Homo sapiens: one gene and its partner. The protein of the gene in region 1 purifies or fractionates together with the protein of each later gene. This does not show direct contact. Each region holds a gene or a part of one and is shown on either strand. Other genes may lie near its edges.

What was found.
Region 2: the proteins of IL1A (region 1) and BPTF purify together in Homo sapiens (affinity purification with mass spectrometry; one large-scale study listed by BioGRID and IntAct). This does not show direct contact.

The regions. Positions count from the first base shown.
Region 1 is NC_000002.12:112,774,400-112,778,220, reverse strand, and holds part of IL1A (interleukin-1 alpha precursor), read left to right. Parts: intron 1-109; coding exon 110-234; intron 235-2,953; coding exon 2,954-3,154; 3' UTR 3,155-3,821. UniProt on the Homo sapiens protein: Cytokine constitutively present intracellularly in nearly all resting non-hematopoietic cells that plays an important role in inflammation and bridges the innate and adaptive immune systems.
Region 2 is NC_000017.11:67,828,218-67,832,038, forward strand, and holds part of BPTF (nucleosome-remodeling factor subunit BPTF), read left to right. Parts: intron 1-3,821. UniProt on the Homo sapiens protein: Regulatory subunit of the ATP-dependent NURF-1 and NURF-5 ISWI chromatin remodeling complexes, which form ordered nucleosome arrays on chromatin and facilitate access to DNA during DNA-templated processes such as DNA replication, transcription, and repair.

The DNA of each region.
Region 1 (3,821 bases):
CACACACACACACACACACACACACACCATGCACACACAATCTACATCAACACTTGATTTTATACAAATACAATGAATTTACTTTCTTTTTGGTTCTTCTCTTCACCAGTGAAATTTGACATGGGTGCTTATAAGTCATCAAAGGATGATGCTAAAATTACCGTGATTCTAAGAATCTCAAAAACTCAATTGTATGTGACTGCCCAAGATGAAGACCAACCAGTGCTGCTGAAGGTCAGTTGTCCTTTGTCTCCAACTTACCTTCATTTACATCTCATATGTTTGTAAATAAGCCCAATAGGCAGACACCTCTAACAAGGTGACACTGTCCTCTTTCCTTCCTACCACAGCCCCCACCTGCCCACCCCACTCCCATTGATTCCAGAGGCGTGCCTAGGCAGGCTCTATGAGAAAATATAACAGAGAGTAAGAGGAAAATTACCTTCTTTCTTTTTCCTTTCCCTGCCTGACCTTATTCACCTCCCATCCCAGAGCATCCATTTATTCCATTGATCTTTACTGACATCTATTATCTGACCTACACAATACTAGACATTAGGACAATGTGGCCTGCCTCCAAGAAACTCAAATAAGCCAACTGAGATCAGAGAGGATTAATCACCTGCCAATGGGCACAAAGCAACAAGCTGGGAGCCAAGTCCCAAAATGGGGCCTGCTGCTTCCAGTTCCCCTCTCTCTGCATTGATGTCAGCATTATCCTTCGTCCCAGTCCTGTCTCCACTACCACTTTCCCCCTCAAACACACACACACACAACAGCCTTAGATGTTTTCTCCACTGATAAGTAGGTGACTCAATTTGTAAGTATATAATCCAAGACCTTCTATTCCCAAGTAGAATTTATGTGCCTGCCTGTGCTTTTCTACCTGGATCAAGTGATGTCTACAGAGTAGGGCAGTAGCTTCATTCATGAACTCATTCAACAAGCATTATTCACTGAGAGCCTTCTATTTTTCAGGCATAGTGCCAACAGCAGTGTGGACAGTGGTGCATCAAAGCCTCTAGTCTCATAGAACTTAGTCTTCTGGAGGATATGGAAAACAGACAACCCAAACAACCAACAAAAGAGCAAGATGCTGCAAAAAAAAAAAAAAATGAATAGGGTGCTAAGATAGAGAAAAGTGGGAGAGTGCTATTTAGACAAAGTGGTAAAAACAAAGCCCCTTGTGAGATGAGAGCTGCCGACAGGAGGGGGCGGGTCATGGTTGTGGGTTTTTGGGTAGGACATTCAGAGGAGGGGGCGGGTCGTGGTTGTGGGTTTTTGGGTAGGACATTCAGAGGAGGGGGCGGGTCGTGGTTGTGGGTTTTTGGGTAGGACATTCAGAGGAGGGGGCGGGTCGTGGTTGTGGGTTTTTGGGTAGGACATTCAGAGGAGGGGGCGGGTCGTGGTTGTGGGTTTTTGGGTAGGACATTCAGAGGAGGGGGCGGGTCGTGGTTGTGGGTTTTTGGGTAGGACATTCAGAGGAGGGGGCGGGTCGTGGTTGTGGGTTTTTGGGTAGGACATTCAGAGGAGGGGGCGGGTCGTGGTTGTGGGTTTTTGGGTAGGACATTCAGAGGAGGGGGCGGGTCGTGGTTGTGGGTTTTTGGGTAGGACATTCAGAGGAGGGGGCGGGTCGTGGTTGTGGGTTTTTGGGTAGGACATTCAGAGGAGGGGGCGGGTCGTGGTTGTGGGTTTTTGGGTAGGACATTCAGAGGAGGGGGCGGGTCGTGGTTGTGGGTTTTTGGGTAGGACATTCAGAGGAGGGGGCGGGTCATGGTTGTGGGTTTTTGGGACATTCAGAGGAGTCTGAATGCACCCAGGCCTACAACTTCAAGATGGTAAAGGACAGCTCCAAGGATCAGAAGAAGCATTCTTGGAACTGGGGCATTTTGAGAAGGAGGAAAAATATGCAGAGACTAGTGCTTGCAGAGCTTGCATTTGGATTTCATTTGAGGTACAATGAAAACCCATTAATGGGTTTCACACAGTGCAATGGCCTGACCTCACTTATATTTCCTAAAATAGAAAACAGATCAGAAGGAAGGCAATAGAGAAGCAGAAAGTCCAATGAGGAGGTTTCACAGCAGTCATGGGGGTGGGGTAAGGAAAAGAAGTGGAAAGAAACAGACAGAATTGGGTTATATTTTGGAGATAGAACCAACAGAAGGAAGAGGAGAAACAACATTTACTGAGAAGGGAAAAAGTAGGAGAGGAATAGGTTTGGGAAATAAATCCTGCTGACATTGGAAACCCCAAGGAAGCCTCAAAAGTATATTTACTTGCTTTAGATTTAAAAGAATAGGAAAGAAGCATCTCAACTTGGAATTTGAAATCTATTTTTCCATAAAAGTATTGTTAAATTCTACTCATACTCACAAGAAAAGTACATTCTAAAGAGTATATTGAAAGAGTTTACTGATATACTTAGGAATTTTGTGTGTATGTGTGTGTGTGTATGTGTGTGCGTGTGTTTAACCTTCAATTGTTGACTTAAATACTGAGATAAATGTCATCTAAATGCTAAATTGATTTCCAAAGGTATGATTTGTTCACTTGGAGATCAAAATGTTTAGGGGGCTTAGAATCACTGTAGTGCTCAGATTTGATGCAAAATGTCTTAGGCCTATGTTGAAGGCAGGACAGAAACAATGTTTCCCTCCTACCTGCCTGGATACAGTAAGATACTAGTGTCACTGACAATCTTCATAACTAATTTAGATCTCTCTCCAATCAACTAAGGAAATCAACTCTTATTAATAGACTGGGCCACACATCTACTAGGCATGTAATAAATGCTTGCTGAATGAACAAATGAATGAAGAGCCTATAGCATCATGTTACAGCCATAGTCCTAAAGTGCTGTTTCTCATGAAGGCCAAATGCTAAGGGATTGAGCTTCAGTCCTTTTTCTACCATCTTGTTCTCTAACAGAATTCTCTTCTTTTCTTCATAGGAGATGCCTGAGATACCCAAAACCATCACAGGTAGTGAGACCAACCTCCTCTTCTTCTGGGAAACTCACGGCACTAAGAACTATTTCACATCAGTTGCCCATCCAAACTTGTTTATTGCCACAAAGCAAGACTACTGGGTGTGCTTGGCAGGGGGGCCACCCTCTATCACTGACTTTCAGATACTGGAAAACCAGGCGTAGGTCTGGAGTCTCACTTGTCTCACTTGTGCAGTGTTGACAGTTCATATGTACCATGTACATGAAGAAGCTAAATCCTTTACTGTTAGTCATTTGCTGAGCATGTACTGAGCCTTGTAATTCTAAATGAATGTTTACACTCTTTGTAAGAGTGGAACCAACACTAACATATAATGTTGTTATTTAAAGAACACCCTATATTTTGCATAGTACCAATCATTTTAATTATTATTCTTCATAACAATTTTAGGAGGACCAGAGCTACTGACTATGGCTACCAAAAAGACTCTACCCATATTACAGATGGGCAAATTAAGGCATAAGAAAACTAAGAAATATGCACAATAGCAGTTGAAACAAGAAGCCACAGACCTAGGATTTCATGATTTCATTTCAACTGTTTGCCTTCTACTTTTAAGTTGCTGATGAACTCTTAATCAAATAGCATAAGTTTCTGGGACCTCAGTTTTATCATTTTCAAAATGGAGGGAATAATACCTAAGCCTTCCTGCCGCAACAGTTTTTTATGCTAATCAGGGAGGTCATTTTGGTAAAATACTTCTTGAAGCCGAGCCTCAAGATGAAGGCAAAGCACGAAATGTTATTTTTTAATTATTATTTATATATGTATTTATAAATATATTTAAGATAATTATAATATACTATATTT
Region 2 (3,821 bases), on another chromosome or scaffold:
CCGCGCCCAGCCTAGTACGTTTTTTATAGTAATAATTTTTACCTTAAGAAATCACATGTTGGTCTTCTTTGCACCCAGAGCCGGTAATTGAAACACGGAGACTGAATTGCATACACCCCTGGAGGAAGTTTTTTCTGGTTAAAAAGAGCTGAGACATTTTGGCAGGACAGTTCAGCTAACTTTAAGTCCTATTCGAAGGCATAGCAAATAATATTTAAGATTGATGGGTGTGCATATGCTGACTTAAATTACAATTTGTAGCTAGGTGTCCTTTAAGAAAAATGTGTTTACTTTTGATACTTTTGTGACATTTTGTTTTTCTTTTTTTGAGAAGGAGTTTTGCTCTTGCTGCCCAGGCTGGAGTGCAATGGCACAATCTTGGCTCACTGCAACCTCCACCTCCTGGGTTCAAGCAATTCTCCTGCCTCAGCCTCCCAAGTAGCTGGGATTAAAGGCATGCAGCACCACGCCCAGCTAATTTTGTATTTTTAGTAATGACGGGGTTTCTCCGTGTTGGTCAGGCTGGTCTTGAACTCCCGACCTCAGTTGATCCACCTGCCTCAGCCTCCCAAAGTGCTGGGATTACAGGCATGAGCTACCGTGCCTGGTCTGACATTTTGTTTTTCTTAATGACACTTGTGTCTACTTGTCTTATCCTTATATGAAATTATTAACTCCTTAGAGATAAGTATTGAGCTTATTCCCCCTGCAGCTCCTGTAACAGAGTTTTGCACATAGCAGGTGCTCATCAAAGATTGGTTGGATAAATTATTGTTAGTAGATAAGAACTTGTAATAGATGAAGTTTTGATAACTCTACAGTGGGTGTCATAATCTCTAAATACTTTGGATTTAGGAAACTAAAAATTGGTCTAATTGTTTTTTGTTTTTGTTTTTTGTTGTTGTTGTTTTTTCTAATTGGTTTTTGATGGACAATTTGATCAGTGAATGTTTTTTTTTTTTTCTGTGAACGTTTTTCATTGCAAGAGTTACTTTGTTTTTGAGTTGCTATTTCATATTGCTTGCCAGGCATTTTCCTTTATTGGCTGTGATGTTAATTTGGATGCTTTACCTTTTGCAACACATTATTTTTAAAGATTATGGTAAAATAGATGTGACTTTTTTTTTTCCTTATCTCTTCTAAAAAAAAACGGGATACATGTGCAGAACGTGCAGGTTTGTTGCATAGGTATACGTGTGCCATGGTGGCTTGCTGCACTTACCGACCGGCCCTCTAAGTTCCCTCCCCTTGCCCCCCACCCCCCGGATGTGACATTTTGAGTTCTAAACTTTTAGAACATGCCCACTTGCCTGGAATGAGTAACAATGCATGACAGTGAGTTGATTAGGCTAAGTACCAGTTTCATTGGTTTTTTAGTCTGTACTTCCTGGAGGAAGGCTGTCAGGTAAATGTGTAGATAGAAGAAAAAAAGTTTTAGAACTGGTTTAAGATATCCGAATAACACATAAAGAAGTATGATTGATGAGTTTGAATCCTGTTGTACTGTGAAGGCTGAAAGAGGAATTTACCTTATTGGTAATTTAGAGTAATTTGATTAATTTTTATAGTTTACAGGGTTGGTTTAAGTACTGACGTGACATTCCTAACATAAGAAATAGCTCACTCCTAATACAAGAAATAACTCAGTATTTTGTAGGTAATGTAACAATGCAAAGACATTAGTTGACATTACTAAAGTCATGAAAGGTTTATTCATTGAAGATTGTTTTCCTTTTATGGAAAAAATGTAAGGATGCCAACTTTTTAGTATAAAATTGAAATCACCTAGTTTTGCTTAAGCTAAAGGCATATCGCTGAATAATGCTTTAATTCATTTTTACTTTTTAAATTTAGACTTACTTCAGCCTATAGGTTTTATGACATTGCCAATATACTGAGAAGGATTGTATAGGAAGTGTTTTCAATAGGCATTTGGTAAGGTTCTGACAGCACTTTGAAATTAAGCATTTGCTAATTTTAAGAAATTATATTTAAAACAGAATGGTTCTTGTGTTGCAGTCTCAGTCTTGTGTGAGACTTCTGAGAATACTTACCTGGAATTTTAAAACTTGGAACCTCTGATAACTTCATGAAACAAAAACCCTGGTGTTACCCTGGGAGAGTTAGTGATTTATGTCCTCTAAGGATTGTGACATTGGAGATCAGTGGCAGAGATGCCATGAATGAACCATAGATTCAAATTCAAGCAGAATTTGTCACTGGTTTGACAATATTATTCCTATCAGTGTCAATATCTTTTCAGTATAATTTCTGATTGCTGCATGCGAGGTACGCAGTGCAGTGGGCATTTTAAGGAGGGCGAGATAATATACCCCATTTAAGGGGATTGATGTGGGCATACACTTCCTGGATGGGCATGTGGAGAGTAAGGAAAGGCAGATTGAGGGAGGGAGGGAGGGAGAGGGAGCGGGAGCGGGAGGGAGCAGCAGGCACTGATAGTAAAGTGTGGGCAGTCTCAAGTAACTCGGTTTAGCAAGAGCCTGAGTGTGTGAATAGGAAATAAACCAAAGCTCCTTTGTATGCTGTGTTGGGCAGTACCTAGAGGATCAGGCTATAGCAACTGTACTTTCCCCCTTTTCTGTAGAATAGGGATTGGGCTGGATTGTGATCCTCAGCCCTTTTTCACTCCTGAACACCCAGAGGAGTTATGTTGTATTCCCAGCAGCACCATGCACAAACATGAAACAGAACCATATCAAATCACAGAGATGCTGTTGAACCACTGGTGTAGCTGTTTCTCCCAAATTGAGAGAATTACTGGGGAAATGGCCTGAAGCTCTCTCTCTTTCACATCTGTTTAATTTTGGGTATTGGGATGATCGGAAGATCTTGAAAGAGTGGGGTATGATTTCAGAGGGATGCCACGAAGTATAGCTTAGATTCTCTTCTGCAGGATGGATTGACAAGGACGAGATAGCTGGTGGGTTTTGTAGCCCTGGATGGAAGATCAGTCCAGGAGGCACTTTAGAGTTCTTCAGGCCTTGACACATAGATGTGTAGAGAGAGGAATGCATTACATATGCCTCCCTAAGAATGGTAGCACTTTCAGTAACAATGGGGAGGTCAAGATTATAAGGGAAATTAATGACATCTGTTTTCAGTTATCAGCACCTCAAGAGGTTAAACATGAGAATTAAACAAAATGAGAGCCAAAAGGGTTATGAAAAAGTTGGGCAATATGATTTGTGAGTAGTAGAGAGGTGTGTCCTAGGTATGCATTAATAAATAGTCTTGCACACAGTTCGTGCTTTTCTATTCTGCTCACCCACGGGCGTGTTTGGAAGTTTGTATTGAAACATGCGTATCACAGGACTGGGGATGTTAAGACCAGGAACTCTGGTCTCTTCTGTTAGGTCCTCCTTTCCTCTTTCCTCAAGACCCTGTGTCTTCCCTTTGACTAAAGACCCTTAATGGTGGAGACATGGGGGTGAGAGACTGGTAGTCATGGTGGGCAAGTAGTATTCTGGGTGACACAGGAGCAAATCCTAGCTGATGCCCTTTTCCCTTCCTGCTCCTTAGCCAGGCTGGAATCCCTCTTCCTGGGAGATCTTCCCTGAGTCCTGTTTTGCACCTTGGTCTTCCTTCTCTTTGAGTGCCTGCTTACGGTGGTTATGATCTCAGCACTAGCTTAATGCTGACACTGATTATTCTAATTTTATTTATTTATTTATGAGACAGAGTCTCACTCTGTCACCCAGGCTGGAGTGCAGTGGCATAATCTCGGTTCACTGCAACCTCCACCTCCTGGGTTCAAGCGATTCTCCTGCCTCAGCCTCCCGAGTAGGGGACTACAGGCGCCT